Regions from separate parts of the Homo sapiens genome. Here region 2 is linked to region 1. The links come from fine-mapping of genetic effects on gene expression. Tissue or cell type: esophagus mucosa. Region 1 holds a variant in brackets; the other region holds the start of a gene. All regions are shown on one strand. Distances are between the middles of the regions.

The links. PIP is the estimated chance that this variant, and not a neighbour inherited with it, causes the effect.
Region 2: SCART1 starts here. The variant in region 1 is fine-mapped to the expression of SCART1 in esophagus mucosa (GTEx, PIP 0.99).

Annotation. Positions count from the first base shown.
Region 1 is chr10:133,561,179-133,569,282 of GRCh38, forward strand. SYCE1 (synaptonemal complex central element protein 1) reads right to left here and starts at 4,405. Exons shown (of 13, transcript NM_001143764.3): 1 at 4,279-4,405. The coding sequence starts at 4,351. It also overlaps the pseudogene SPRNP1. The variant A/G (reference allele first, on the strand shown) is at 3,974.
Region 2 is chr10:133,449,038-133,457,141 of GRCh38, forward strand. SCART1 (scavenger receptor family member expressed on T cells 1) reads left to right here and starts at 4,908. Exons shown (of 12, transcript NM_001396050.1): 1 at 4,908-5,027; 2 at 7,200-7,517. The coding sequence starts at 4,961. RefSeq lists an enhancer at 4,633-4,682.

The DNA of each region.
Region 1 (8,104 bases):
CATCCCTAACTTTGGTAAAATAAACTTCCTAAATTGACTGAGACCTGTCTCAGATTTTTGGGTTTCACATTTTGGCAACCACAAAGGGATTCTGAGTAGAGGTGCCCCTGACCTTTGACAAATATCCTATCAGTGCTTGCTAGCAGCTTGAGCTATCTTTATGGTTCAAACTAATATGACAAGTTGCTGAGTTCTGGAAGTCCCCCATCCAGGGAATCCCTCATTTCCCAAAATTCGCTCCAGATCCAAAGTTTATTTTTCTAAACAACTCTACTCTTTTTTTGGAGTTTTTCTTGCTTCCAACAAGGAAGGCAAGTTTTCCTGCTTCCATGAAAGTTCCTTTCTGGAGTTTGAACTCGCTCCCAACAGGGAAGACAAGTTTGAGGGTTTTTTTCCTGCTTCTAAGATGATAGAGAGCAGTCTTCAGCCTAAGACCCATCCCTAGGTAAGTAACTGAATTGGGGTTTGTCTTGGCTAAAGGTAAAATTAACAACCAGCTGGTCTTAATTTTTCCTTATCATTAGAGTGTCCAGTAACCATACAAGTTGTGTGATCATTTGTTTGTTTTGCTTAACTGGTATTTTTTTTTGTTGTTGTTTCTTTCTGTTTTTGTTGTTTTGGTCCTTTTCCTATTGGGTTTGGCCAATTCTGACTTGATCAAATCCAAAGGAAAGTTCCAAATTATGTGGAACAAGGCCTCTGAAGTGGCTAAATTCCCACCAGAAAAGGGGTGGTGGGGGAAGAAAAAACAGCCAGCAAAAGGAAAAAAGGGGGGGAAGATTTTTGATTTTGACTACTTAAGGGGATTTATTTACATAACAAGGCCACCTTTTTGCTAGCCAGGCCAAACTGAAAGAGAAAGGATTGTCACCCCAACTGCAGTTCCATAGCTAAGGTTCTGTCTTCTTTTTTCCATGACAGCCTGGGTTTGGTTCCTAAATCAAGACCTTTCTGGTTTGATACTTGGTACTTCTGAAATAGCAGATATTTGTCCTAGCTGAAATATGTTGATGAGATCTTAAAAATTTTTTAAAAAGAAACTCAAATGGTTAAAAGTCATCTTAATTAAAAGCTAACATCCAATGTGTGTGTGTGTGTGTGTGTGTGTGTGTGTGTGTGTGTGTGTGTGTGTGTGTGTATTTAAAAGGGCTTCATGATTTTTCTTTTTTCTCTCTCCTAGGACCTTGTGTTTTTTGGGCAAAAGTTTTTTTTCTTTTCAGTTGACTGAATGCTATTTTCTTCATATAGTTCTGCTGTCTCTCCTTTCCCTTGAACGCTCTGCTGCATGAGGGACCTAAAATAGTTTATAATAGCCTGAGGTTCCTTAAAGAAAATGGAGAAGGCACCAGACTCCCTTTTGTGGAGAAAATTGTTTTTCCTTGTGTATCCCCAAGAGTGTAAACACACAAGTTCATGTCAGCTCCTAAACTGTTTGCTTTTGTATTGTGTTACCTGATTTTTTTGTTTATTAATTATTGCAACAGAAGCTACTCCTGCATTTTTAAGGAAGAGTATATTTTAGACACTTAGAAATATTTTTTTAATGTTTTTTAAGTACACTGTAAAAGCATCCATGTGGTCGAGCCTCATAATAATTCTCCCTTTTTGCAGACCCAGGATTCAGTGTGGCCTCTTCCCAGAGCTCAGAGATCCAGTTAAAAGATAGGTAGTCACTATCTAAATAAAATTGGTCTCCTGTGATCCAACCACCTCCCACCAGGCCCCAACTCCAACATTGGGGATTACAATTCAACATATTTGGGTGAGGACACAGATCCAAACCATATCACAGGCCAAGGCCAAGGCCGAGGCACGGTTGAGAAGGCTCAGAGGCACCTGACCAAAGTTTGTAACAGTTTTGATTGACAATACCAAATTACCTTACACTGATGTATACAAGATGCCCAGTTTTTCATTTTTACCAATCACCTATGTTTCCAAACGTGTTTATCTTTGTCAACCAGATATGCAAAATTAAGGTGTCTCCTTACAAACTTTCTGATAGTAAATATCAAAAGTTTGGGTGCATCTTATTTTCTAAGACTATGTCCTAAGTAATTCTGGATATGGCTAATGGGCAAGGTGTTCATCACTGTATTGTTTATAATAGTGAAAAACTCGAAGAAGCCTAAATATGCCTTAGGGGATTTGTTAAATAAATTATAGCACATACACAGGATGAAATCATTTACAGCCATTAAAAATCATGCATACATGCATAAGGCCAGGCTCAGTGGTTCACATCCATAATCCCAGCACTTTTGGGAGACTGAGGCAGGAGGACTGCTCAAGCATAGGAGTTCAAGAGCAGCCTGAGCAATGCAGCAAGACCCTCTCTCTACAAATAAAAAATTTAAAAAAATTATCTGGGCATGGTGACATGTACCTGTGATTCCAGCTACTCAAGAGGCTGAGGTGGGAGAATCTCTTGAGGCCAGGAGGTCAAGGCTGCAGTGAGCAGTGATTGTACCACTGCACTCCAGCCTGGGCAACAAAGCACAATCTCGTCTCAAAAAAAAAAAAAAATCAAGCATAAAATTTTGTGAAATGCTTATTTTTGAGTTTATGGAGTCCCCTCATTTTGGTCCCACCTGAAATCTTACACAAATTACTGCTCATAAATTTTTGCATTAAGTTTTAAATTATTCAAGTAATTGGCATGTGTGAAAAAGTATGAAGAAAAAATTGAAACACCAACATTCCCTTTCCCCAGTCATTCCCCTTTCTAGTAATAACTGCAGCCAGTTAGGTGAAGACTAATAGACTTTTTACTAAAATGTATCTAGTGTCACTGACCCTAGATAACATCCCTGCTTCCTTTTTAAAACAGATAGACTAAAACTGGAATCTTGTCCTTTAAATTTCTTCTGTAGCTGGTCACTATAGAATGTTTGTGCCCCCATCCATAGTTCGTATGTTGAAATCCTAACCCCCTAGTGTGACTGCATTAGGAGGTGGGGCCTTTGGGAGGTGATTAGGTCATGAGAGTAGGGCCCTCAGCAATGGGATTAGTGCCCTTATAAGACCAGAGAGGTCTGCAGCAACTTCCCCAACATGAGGACACAATGAGAAGACAGAAGTCTATAGCCAGGAAGCAGGCCCCCACCAGACGCTGAATTGCACCTTGATCTTGAACTTCTAGCCTCGAAAACTGTGAGAAATAAGGCATTTCTGTTGTAGCAGTTTGAACTAAGGCACAAGCGACATTGGTTAAAACTTACCTAAATATACTAGGTTATGTGAGGAACATGGAGCCATGATACTGAAAGGCTAGCACACCGGCGGGCCAGCAGGTGCTTAATGAAAGGGATACGTTTGCGTCTGTCCTGTTTACTTGCTTTGTCCTTCGCTGGGGCTTTCACTGTGCCACATCTCACTGTAGGGATGCTTTCTGTGCTAAGCTTGTTTCAGTATTCAAACCTTCATTTTGTAAGAACATGACAGAGCACCTGCCATGGCATTCACGCAGGTAGGGCTGGAGGCAGCCACCGACGTTTGTTAATTGCAGAGTTTTAACTCAAGGGGGACAGATGATCTCAGGACAGAATGACAAGCTGAGTGACAGCAGGAGGGACGTCACCGTACAATTCTCTCCACTTTTCTGTAAGTTTGAAAATCCTCACAGAACACCCAGAGGCACACAGTGTCCTGAAGTGGAAACGGCCAGGACAGTGTCCTTTCTCTTTGTTGGGCTGCAATTTCTGGACTTCTGTACAACTCTGACCAGCTGCCTGTCCCCTCCCTTCCCAGGGTGAGGTAGGAGCCACTATGGCAGGTCGGGGTCAGGGAGAAACAAACGGGGGATCTGCGTGGAGTCGGCCTCCCCCGGCTCCCCGGGGCGTCGGGATGCTGGGTGGGGGGCCCCACTGTCAAGAACCAGTTTAGTGCGACTGGGAAATCTGGACACTTGCTGGTTCTAGGGAGAGGAAGGTGGAATTAGGAATTCCCTTGGGATTGGGAGCGTCAGGAAAAT[A/G]TCCTTTTTGTTTTAAGAGGTGTGTATGTAAAGTCTGTGGGACAACGGGAAGGGATGTCTTTTGACTAATTACCTAAACCAAAATTGGAGCAACTATGATAACAGTTCAATGCTTTAAGACAAAGTGGGGGGTGTGCGGGCAAGCACTCCCTCATCTTGGCCGAAATTTTTCTGAAGAAACCCGCTAAGTCTCAATCAGCAGCATCAGGACTGACAGGAAGAAGCAGCCGCCACCCGCGCCCCAACCCTGCCCCGCCTCGGCGAGGTCAGACCCTCACGCACAGTTCCCTGCCTCCCACCACTACCTCCGGCCTTCTCAGCCCTGTCCACGGCTCCTGCGGTGGGCTCGGCCTTCGATGTCAGGGACCTCCCCGCCATTTCCTCTCAGCTCGCCAGCGAGGGTGCCTCGGGAGGGAGCCTCCAGTGGTGATTGGAGCAACCGCCGCTGGGGGCAGGACTCCAGGCAGCGCGCCTGCGCAATGCACTCCTGCGCGCGCCTGGAGATGTGAGGTAATTCTCCGGCAGGCCTGCGTGGCACTAGTGCGCATGCGTAAAGGCGCGAGGGCTACAAACGCGGCGGGAAGCCCGCCAGGGCCACGTGCGGCCGTCCAGGCTTGCGATTGGCCCGCTGCCGGGTGCCCCCGCGCATGTGCGCTGGCTTCCGAGGGGACCGGCCCTGGTTCTGGAGGCCCTCCCCACCAACGAGCAGTACGCATGTGTAGCGCCGAAGCTTCCTGTGAAGTGTGCGTGTCTGACGGATGACGACTCCACAAGGCGCTGTGGCCCTGGCAGCCTCATGAGGTTGCGGCTCTGCGGGACCACACCGCCGCGGGAGTGCACGGGCCCCAGCGAGTGAAATCTGCGGCAGCCCCCGCTGGGCCCGCTGTTCCTGCGCGCGCAGAGGAGCGTAGCCTGCCCCTAGGCCGCGTTCCCGTGAGCTCCATGCCCACAGTGGCCGAGGCCGGCCACAAGCCCACGGTCCCTTCTGCACGGTCCCTGCCGCGCTGGGGCCACCGTGGAGGCCCGGAGGGCCCTGGGAGGAGGGAGGAGGAGCAGAGGCTTTCGGGAGAACCCAGCCCTTCACCGGCCAGGGGAGGCCGCGATGCATCGCGACTGGTTGTGAAGAGCCAGGGGAAGAACTTTACCGTGCAGGTGAGTGGGAGACATCAGAACACCTGCCTGTCCTAAATACGAAGCCTCGAATCCTAACCTATAAAAGGTTACCTTAGGGTTTAGGGTTAGGGCTACAGATTAGAGCTAGGGATTAAGGTTAGAGTTGGGGTTGGGGTTAGGGTTTAGGGGTTAGAAGTTAGTTTTGGGGTTAGGAGTGGGGTTAGAATTAGGGTTTGGGGTTAGTGTTAGGGGTAGGGGAAGGATTGGGGTAGGGTTAGGGTTGGGCTAGGGTCGGGGTAGGGGTAGGGTTTTACGGTTAGGGTCAGGGTTTTAGTGTTGGGGTTAGGGTATTGGGGTTAGGGTTTGGGGGCTAGGGGATTAGGGTCAGGGGTGGGGGTTAGGGTTTGGGATTTGGCTAAGGTTTGTAAGGGTTAGGGTTTTAGGGTAGGGGATAGGGGTTAGGGTTACGTGTTGGGGTTGGGATTAGGGTTAGGGGTTACAGTTTAGGGTAAGGGGTTAGAGTTAAGGGTTAGGGTTAGCATTAGGAGTTACAGTTGGGTTAAGGGTTAGGGGTTAGGCTTAGTGTTGTTAGGGTTAGGGTTAGGGTTAGCATTAGGAGTTACAGTTGGGTTAAGGGTTGCAGGTTAGGCTTAGTGTTGTTAGGGTTAGCTTCAGGGTTCGGTGTCAGGGTTTGGGGTGGGGTAGTGGTAGGTTTAGGGGTAGCGTTGTGTGTTAGGATTTGTGGTTACGGTTCGGGCTAGGGTTTTAGGGGTAGGCATAGGTTCGAGTTTGGGTTTGGGTGTTAGGTTTATGGCTAGCATTAGGGTAGGGGTTAGGTGTAGGAGTAGGGGTTGAGGTTATGAGTTGAGGTTAGGGTTAGGGGTCAGGGGTCCGGTCAAGGGTTGGTGTTGGATTTAGGGATTAGGGCTAGAATTAGGGGTTAGGGTTAGGGGTTTGTGTCGGGGTTGGGTTGGAGGCTTGGGTTCAGGGTCAAGTTTAGGGTTGGGGCTAGGGCTTAGGGTTATGGGTTAGTGTTAGCAGTTAGGGTTAAGGTTTAGGCTTAGGGTTTAGTGCTTGAGGTGGGGGTTAGGTGTTAGGGGTTAGGGTTAAGGGTTAGTGTTTTGCGTTAGTGGTTAGGGTTAAGGGTTATGGTTAAGGGTCAGCGTTAGGGTCAGGGGTTAGGGGTAGGGGTTGTGCTTAGTTTTAGGGTTAGGGTTCCTGGACGGATGGTTTTCCTGCTTGGGAATGTTCCTGGGCTGTGAGATCCACTCTTCTGGGCAGGTGGTTAGCACCTAACGTTTTCCCCTTACTTCCCCCCAAATTCTTAAGTCCTTTGGTCCATTTCATTACTTCTTTTGGGGAGGGCCTGATTCCTCAGGGCCTCAGTGGCAGAACCAGCCTGAGGTCACCTCCCTGTCCATGGGTTACCACGGCCCCTGGGCAGGCATGGGGAGCTGGGGTGGCTTGGGTTCCTGGCCTTGGCACCTCCCTTTGGGCGGCTCTGGAGTGTGGCTGGGCTGTTGGTACAGGAGCCACAGGCCACTGCCTTTTTGGCTGAGGGGACCCTAACATCCTGGAGCAGGTGGGGCAGGGCCCATGGTCTCCTCTAGGTGGGAGGTGGGAGGCTGAGGCGGCGTGGGCAGGCAGGTGGATGGCGAGGCAGCATGGGCAGGACGGTGGATGGCGGGTCCACAGGGGCAGCCAGCAGCTCCTGCACCCACTGGGGCTCCAAGACTGTGGGCAAGGGAGGAAGGGGGAGCCCAGGCCGGAGGATCCTGGGGGACGGTGCGGCCCGGGGGCCAGATGTGGTCACCGAGCCCAGCCAGGCCTAGGGCCGCAGCAGCCCCAGGGCACTGAGGGCGCCACCCAGCCCGACACAGAGGCACAGGCCGCCCGTGGGTCCAGCGCCCGAAGTCCACGTACAGTAGCTGTAGATGCCGAGCCGGTCCTGTTGCCTCCGGGAACCCAGTCCTCCTCGTCCTCCAGGCCGCGTTCCCCGGGTCCCGCGGCCCTTCTCCAGCCTGAGCCCGCCGCCCCGGCCGCAGCCACGCGCAGGGAGGAGCCCGGGGCACCATAGCACAGCGCCGGCCTCACACACACCCTCGAGGCCCCTCTCGAGCCCCCGCGGAGCCCTCCGCGGCCGCACGCAGAGGAAGGCTGCCTCCTGTAGCAGAGCCCAGCCATTCGCGGGTGCCCAGTTCATCTTCATGGGGCTAAACCTGCGGGAAGAGAGGGAAAGGGCCCTTAGTTTCCATGGAGATCGGGTGCCCAGAGGCGGAGGGCTCAAGGCTGGAGAGCAGAGGGACCCCCATCTTTTGTGGGATCAGGGTGCCCCCAGCATCTTGGAGGCCCACTGAGGCCTGGGGGGGCGCGGTTTAACCTCTAGCATCAGGGACTTAGGCCTGGGGGAGGCGCTGGGAAGTGGCAGGTGGGGCAGGAGGGGCAGGAGGGTTCTGCACCTGAAGGTTGTGCACCTGGATTGGGGGTGTAGAAGCGGGGCAGGAGCGTTCAGGCCTCTGGGGGCGTCCAGGCCCGGGCGGGGGAGCAAGCCTGGGGGAGGGAGCTCTGCACGCGTTGCTGGGATGTGGGGGGCGGGGGGAGGCGGCATGGGGGGAGGGGCGTTGTGTTTGGAGGACGCGGTAGCCGGGACCAAGAGCTGGCTCAGATCAGGGTCTGGAACGGGGACGGGCCGTGCCTGGGCCTGGTCCCCACCTTTGGGGCCAAAGCCTGGGTGCGGGCCTTGCGGATGCTGCGGAGGACAAGCGGCTGCTGACACCGTGCGGACTCCGCCCCAGCAGACCCGTGCCCCAGGGACAGTCCCTCCCGCGCGCGCCCAGCGCTCAATGCCGTCCCCGGCCGCCTAGTTCAGCAGCTGGCTGGGGGCGGGACGGGGTCGAGTTGCGGGGCCGCGTCCAGACACGGCTGTGCGGGCGACAGCTGCATCCCCTCCCCGCGCCGCCCCTCGCTCCCGGCCCCGTACCCGCCCCAGCCTCCCGGCCTTACCCGCCACGGGCCTCG
Region 2 (8,104 bases), 110 kb before region 1:
TTATCCACACAATCTGTAGATTCAATGCAATTCCTATCAAAATATAAATTACATTCTTCACTGAAATAGAAAAAAGATTCCTAAAATTCCTATGAAACCACAAAGACTCTGAATAGCTAAAGCAATCCTGACCAAAAAGAGCAAAGTTGGAGGAATCACACTACCTGGGTTCAAAACATACTACAAAGCTATAGTAACCAAAACAGCATGGTACTGGTATGAAAACAGACACACAGGGCAGTTGAACAAAATGCAGAACCCATAAACAAATCCACATTAGCCCTAACTGACTTTTGACAAAAGTGCCAAGAACACACTTGGGGAAAGTACACCCTCTTCAATAAATGGTGCTGGGAAAACTGGATATTCATATGCAGAAAATAAAACTAGGCCTCTATCTTTCACCATATAAAAATCAACTCAAAATGGATTAAAGACTTAAATGTAAGATCCAAACTATAATACTACCAGAAGAAAATATAGGGGAAATGAGTCAGGACATTGGTTTGGGCAAAGATTTTATGAACAAAACTTCAGAAGCACTGGTAATGAAAGCAAAAATGGACAAATGGGCATATATCAATCTAAAATTGCTCTGCACAGCACAGGAAACAAATGACAAGGTAACAACCAACAGAATGGGAGAAAATATTCACAAATTATCCATCTGACCAGGAGTGAATAATCAGAATATATAAGGAATTCAAACAATTGAATAGCAAAAAAAAAAAAAAAAAAAAAATTAAGTCGATAAAAAAATGGGTGAAAGTTTCTGAATAGGCATTTATCAATAGAAAACATATAAAGAACCAAAATATATGGAAAAAAGCTCAACATCAGTAATTACCAGAGAAATGCATATTGAAACCACAATAAGATATCATCTCACCCAAGTTTGAAGGGCTTTTATCTAAAAGACAAACAGTAACAAATGCTGGTGAGAATGCAGAGAAATGGTAAAACTTACACACTGTTGGTGGGAATGTAAATTAGTACAGCCATTATGGAAAACAGTATGGGGTTTCCTCAAAAAAAAATAAACATAGAACGACCATATGATCCAGCAATCCCACTACTGGGTATTTATCCAAAGGAAGGGAAATCAGTGAATTGAAGAGATATCTGCACCCCTATGTTCACTGCAGCACTATTCACAATAGACAAGACATGGAATCAACCTAAGTGTTCATGAATAGATAACTATATAAAGGAAATGTAATATATATACACAATGGAATACTATTAAGCCATAAAAAAGAGTGAAATAGGCTGGGCATGGTGACTAACACCTGTAATCCCAGCACTTTGGGAGGCCAAGACTGGTGGATTGCTTGAGTCCTGGAGTTTGAGACCAGCCTGGGCAACATGGTGAAACCCCATCTCTACAAAAAAAAAAAAAAAAAAAAACAAATTATCTGGGTGTGGTGGCATGCACCTGTGGTCCCAGCTACAAGGGAGGCTGAGGTAGGGGGATTACTTGAGTCCAGGAGGCAGAGGTTGCAGTGAGCCAAGATCATGCCACTGCACTCCAACCTGGGCCACAGAATGAGACCCTGGGGGTGTCTCAAGAAAAAAAATAAGTAGATTAAAGAAACCTGTAATCTCAGCACTTTGGGAGGCCAAGGCAGGTGGATCACCTGAGGTCAGGATTTCAAGACCAGCCTGGCCAACATGGCGAAACCCTGTCTCTACTAAAAATACAAAAATTAGCTGGTCGTGGTGCCATGTGCCTGTAATCTCAGCTACTTGGGAGGCTGAGGCAGAAGAATCGCTTGAACCTGGGAGGCGGAAGTTGCAGTGAGCCGAGACTGCACCATTGCACTCCAGCCTGGGCAACACGAGTGAAACTCCATCTCAAAAAAAAAAAAAAAAACTTGCCATTTGTGGCAGTGTGTGCATGTAGGACATTCTATTAAGTGCAATAAATCAGGTACAAAAATATCAATACTGCAATACTGCTAGTTGTCACTCACATGTCGGGACTAAGAAATTGACCTCATATTAGTAGAGTAGAATTAGAGTTACTAGAGACTGGTAAGGGTTAGGGGAGAAGCAGATAGGGAGAGGTTGTTTAATAAATACAAAGTTACAGAGGAATAAGTTCCAGTGTTCTGTAGCTCTGTAGGGTGACTATAATTCAAAATAACTTGTTGTGTATTTTCAAATAGCTAGAAGAGAGGGTTTTGAATGTTCCCAACAGATAAATGATAAATGTTTGATGGGTTTGGTAGTTACCCTGATTCGATCATTATGCATTGCACACATGTATCAAAGTATCACTCTGTATCCCATAAATATGTACAATTCTTACATGTCAATTAAAAATAAGGCACTTCCTGCTTGCTTCCATTTCAGACGAGAAATTAGCTGTAATTCACATTTTACCATTTTTTATAGTCAGTGCAATCCTTTTTGTCTGGCTGTTTTTAGGATTTTTTTTTCCTTTGGTTTCCAAACGTTTAATTATGATGTGTCTTGGTGTGAATGTCTTTGAATTCATCTTATTTTGGATTTCTCAGCTTCTTGAATCTGTAGTTTTGTGCCTTTCACCATATTTGGAGAATATTTAGTAGTTGTTACTTTAAATACATTTTCAGCCCCATACGCTCTCTTATCTTTCCTGAATTTCCCAGATACAAAGATTAAGTCTTGTTATTATTGTCCCACAGATCCCCGAGGCTCTATAAATTTTTCTATTTTCTCTCTGTTGTTTGCACTGTGTAAATTCTATTGAAGTATCATCAGGTTCACTGGTTCCTCTGTCATTTCCATTCTACTAGTCCGTTCATTGAGTTTTTAACATTTCAGTTATTATATTTTCAGTTCTGTAATCATTTATTTTAAAAACAATTTAATTGAGGTTCATGTATCATAAATGCACTCTTTTAAAGTGTGTGGTGCAGAGGATTTTAGTATATTCAGGATTATGCAACCAGCACCACTAATTTCAGAACATTTTCATCACCTGAAAAAGAAATCCTGTAGCTGGCTGTGGTGGCTCACACCTGTAATCTCAGCACTTTGGGAGGCCAAGGTGGGAGGGTCCGATGAGGCCAGGCGTTTGAGACCAGCCTGGGTACATGGCAAGGCTTTCCATCTCTACAAAAAAATTTAAAAAATTAGCCAGACATGGTGGCATGCACCTATAGTCCCAGTTACTCAGGAGGTTAAGGTAGGAAGATCACTTGAGGCCAGGAAGTTGAGGCTGCAGTGAGCTATGATCATGCCACTGCACTCCAGCCTGGATGAGAAAGTGAGACTCTGTCTCCCAATAAATAAATGAATATATAAATACATAAATAAATAAAAATAAAAAAGAAAAACACTATACTATTTTCAGTCATTTTCTCTTTCCTCCTTCTCTAGCCCCTGGAAACCATGAATCTAATTTCCTTGTCTATTGATTTGCCTATTCTGGAAATCTCATATGAATGGAATCGTACCCAGTATGTGGTCTTTTACATCTGGCTTCTCTCACTGAGCATGTTTTCAAGGTTGACGCACATCCAGCCTGTGTGGGTGCCTTGTTCCCTTTCTATGGCTGAGTGACATTCCATAATGTGGACATACCGCATTTTGTTTCTCCATTTATCAGTGGATGCACACGTGAGCTGTTTTCATCTTTATTATGAATAATGCTGCATGGACATTCATGTAGAGATTTTTGTGTGGACATAAGTTTACATTCCTCTTAGATATGTACCCAAGAGTGGAGTTGCCCCTTCTGGGCTCAAGTGGTATCTTCCAGGAGTATCTCTGTTTAACATTTTGACAAACTGCCAAACTTTCTCAAAGCAGTTGCACCATTTTTGAATCTACCAGCAAAATCTGAGAGGTCCCATTTCTCTACATCCTTACCACTGTTTCATTTTGTTTTTAAGACAAAGTCTTGCTCTGTCACCCAGGCTGGAGTGCAGTGGTGCAATCTCAGCTCACTGCAACCTCCGCCTCTTGGGCTCACGCCATTCTCATGCCTCAGCCTCCCGAGTAGCTGGGACTACAGGTGCATGTCACCCTGCCCGGCTAATTTTTGTATTTTTAGTAGAGACAGGGTTTCACCATGTTGGCCAGGGTGGTCTCGAACTCCTGACCTCAGGTATCTGCCCACCTCAGCCTCCCAAAGTGCTAGGATTACAGGCGTGAGCCACTGCGCCTAGCCTGTTCCATTTTTATAACTTCTATTTCTTTGCTGAGATTTCAATTTTTCCACTTATTTCAAGAGCATTTGCAATTTGTTGTGGAAACATTTTTATGATGCCTGTTTTAAAATCCTTGTCAGATAATTCTGACACCTGACTCTTCCTGGTGCCGCCCTTAGTTGGTTGTCTCTTACTGAAATGGTCGTGTCCCTGGGTCTTCATATGATGAGTGATTCTTAACTGTATCTTCTCTCAAGGGTTTTCATTCCAACGACAGTTCAGTTCTCAGAGTTCTTGCAAAGCTCTTCCGTGTCATTCTTCTGGTGCTGCTGGGACTCCCACTCAAACCCTAATCCTACCCCTACCCCTAACTCTGCTAGTGCCATCTGCTGGCACAGAGGACGCCTCCTTGGCTGTCTGGGGCCACTGCCTTCTGTGGTGGTGGCATGGCTGAAGCCGACGGGCCCGGGTGGAGGGCAGAGACGCAGGGCTTCACTGATGCTGTGCTGTGGGCAGGTTGGACCATCTCTGCCTGATGGTTGGGTCTAGTCCCATCAGCAGCTTGATCAGTGTGGGAGGAAACCCACAGCCTGCACCCTCCCCATGTCTGGTGATGCTCAGGCCAGCAAGGCATTGGCTGCTCTGCTCACGGCTGAGAGGCAGAGCTGCTGATTCGCTCTGGAAAGGCTGTGGCTGTCCCCATTGGACCCTGGAGGTCCTTGGCAGCTCCCACTTCTGTATATGTGACTCTGGGCTGTGACCTCTGCCATTGCCCCAGCTAAGCAGCGAGAGCTTGCTGAAGCCCAGAGGGCTGTGGGACCATGAGGGCAGCTCTCTGGACCCTGGGACTCGGGCCCCTTCTTCTGAATCTCTGGGCAGTCCCCATTGGTAAGTTTCTGCTTCCTTCATCCATGGAACTTTCTGGAGGCATCAGCTCTGTTGATGCCCAGGCCCCGGGGCATGAGGGTCCCTGCAGTGACCTGCCGTCTGCCTGGGTCTCACTCAGCCCAGAGTGGGTGGGACATGCTGGGGCAGGAGGGAGGTGACTCCACATGGCTGGATCCCTGTGACCTCAGGGCCCCCAGACCCTAGCCCCACTGCTTGGAACCCAGGGTTCAGGGCTGGGTCAGGCCCTGGACAAAATGAGGGACACGGCCCAGTGTCTGGTCCCAATGACCCTGATCAACAGAGTCCTGAGGGGTCCTGCGGGGGCTGCTCCATCCACGTGCCCTGGAGCAGGGCTGAGGTCCTGGGAAGGAGGTGGGAGGGTTGGCTGCATCTGGCAGTGAGGTTGAGCATGGGGTCCCATGGAGATGCTGCACCCAGGTGGAGACACTGGGGTGTGAAGCCATGTGGAAGGGCTGCTGGGTCAGGGGCAGGGAGGTGTAGAGAGGGGGGTCTAGCTAGAAGGAACAGCAGGAGAGGCTGGAGGTGAGAGGGAGCCCCGGGGACCTGCGTACGTGGGCATGGAGCCATGATGTGAGTGTGGGGCTGGGCGGGAGGCAGGGGAGGGTGCCCTTGAGGCTGAGGAACACTTCACTGTCAAGGCTGGTCCAGGTGCCCAGCAGGGCGGTGACCTGGTGCTGGACGGAGCCACATCCCCAGCGGTGGGGTGGAAGTCTGTGGGCAGCTGCAGAAAGTGCAGAGGAGGTTAGGATTTGAAGGAAAGGCAGCAATGTGGCCACAGATGGATGGAAGCCTGGGGTTGAAGGGATTTGCTTTTGTGTCAACGATCGCATGCACAAGGGCCGGAATTCTCTATTACAACAAGAAATAGCTTTAGAAAATATAAAATGAAAAGCTATTCATAGCGGGCGTGGTGGCTTATGGCTGTAATCCCAGCACTTTGGGAGGCTGAGGCAGGCAGTTTACCTGAGGTCATGAGTTCGAGATCAGCCTGGCCAACATGGTGAAACCCCATCTCTACTAAAAATACAAAAATTAGCCAGTCGTGGTAGTGGGCGCCTATAATTCCCGCTACATGGGAGGCTGAGGCACGAGAATCAGTTCAACCCTGGAGGTGGACATTGCAGTGAGCTGAGATCGTGCCATTGCACTCCAGCCTGAGTGACAGAGCGAGACTTTTGTCTAAAAAAGAAAAAATTGCAGACACCAGCACGCATCCATGTCCTGAGAAGAACCAGGTGGGGAGGGTGATGAGGAGGCTGGGGGGTGTGGAGGGATGGATGAAGACTGAGAGAGAGGAGATTCAAGGCTCCCCAGGAGGTGGGAGGGAAAGGTCTTCATCTTGGACCAGGCAGGGTCCCCCCTCTGCTCCTGACTGCCATCGGGGAGGCTCTTTTCTGGGTGTGGAGAGTCCTCCAGGGGCCCTGGAGGCTGCTCTGGGACCACACAGCACCACCCACATGGACTTCCTCCTACTGGTTGCTTCATTTTCCTCGGGGTGGCTGTGTTGATGTGGGGTTGCAGAGGCCTGGAGAGGGTGGTTAGGGGTGCCTCCGTGGCGGGTGGGAGAGAAGGTGCTGGAGTAGCTGAGATGCTCAGAGACCGGAGGGTGAGATCCTGCCTGGAAGCCGGTATGGGTGGGGTAGTGGGGCTGGGTTTGGCATAGTGGGAGGGCAGGCAGGGGTGGTTTTCCTGGATACTCAGGGTTGCAGAGGACAGGACCGAAGGGTGAGCGGGGCACTCCAAGGGGTGTGGACAGTCACGTGGGTGGGGCAGGTGTGACAGTGGTGGGCTGGAGACCACAGGGCCTCCAGTGGAAGTAGGGGAATGATGCTTGGGAGGCAGAGAGTGGGTGGGAGGACCCACCCAGCTGCAGACCCAGGAGGACAGGGGACTTCCTTGCCTGGGGGATGGGGTCCTCCAGGATGTTGGGGCTCCAGAGGGCCAGGGAGGGGAGTAGCCCCCGGGGAGACACATGGGGTGAGGGTTTCTCTGTGAGCCGCGCCCATCACCTCTCTGGGACTGCTTGGTGGGGTGAGAGGAGCCCGACTCGCTGCTGAGGCCTCACAGGCCGTTCCCTGCTGCCGCGGCTGCCATCTCCTCCTGCGCCTCTGGTTGGTTCTGGCCCCTCTAACTGGACCTGTCTGTCTGTAGGTGGACCAGGTGCTCTGAGGCTGGCGTACAGACACAGCACGTGCGACGGAGTGGTGTTGGTCCGACACCACGGGGCATGGGGATACGTGTGCAACCAGGAGTGGACGCTGGCAGAGGCCTCTGTCGTGTGCAGGCAGCTGGGCTGCGGCCCTGCCGTGGGCGCCCCCAAGTATGTCCCGCTGCCTGGAGAGATGGCCCAGCCCTGGCTTCACAACGTGTCCTGCCGGGGCAACGAGTCCTCCCTCTGGGAGTGCAGCCTTGGCTCATGGTGCCAGAGCCCGTGCCCCCACGCATGGGTGGTGGTCGCGCTGTGCTCCAGTAAGTAGGGAGGAGTGAAGGGGACGGGGCTGAGGAGGAGGAGGAGTGGGAGGACGAGGAGGAGGACTGGGAGGACGCAGAGGAGGACTGGGAGGATGGCGGGTCTCGGAGACGGGCGGGGAGGCTGTGGGTCTGGAGCTCTCTCTGGGAGGGGCTCCTCTCTGGGCACCGGGGCCATCCTGACTGTAAGATTCAGCTGTGGAAAAACCAACGCCAGGGAGAGTCAGAGATTGGAGGAAGGAAGCAGAGTGCGGCCCAGGCGTGGGGGAGGCAGCAGCCGAGCGGGGGCGGGGTCTGTGGACGCCTGAGGCCCACACAGGTAGCTGATGATGGTTTCTTAGACAAATGACAGACAGGTACACGCTTTCCCTTTGAGGTCTGGCTCGAGGGTCCTCAGCTGTCCCTCACATTTTATGTGGCTGTGAGGACCCCCTCATAGCGTCCTGCCTCTGAGGCTGAACCACCTGGCCAGGACCTCCTACCATTTTGGGGCCCAGTGTGAACGGATCCTGCGGGGAACCTTGTTTCAGGAGACCAGCAGCAGAGCATGAAGCTGGGCACAGGGGTCTCTCTGAGCCCAGGGCCCT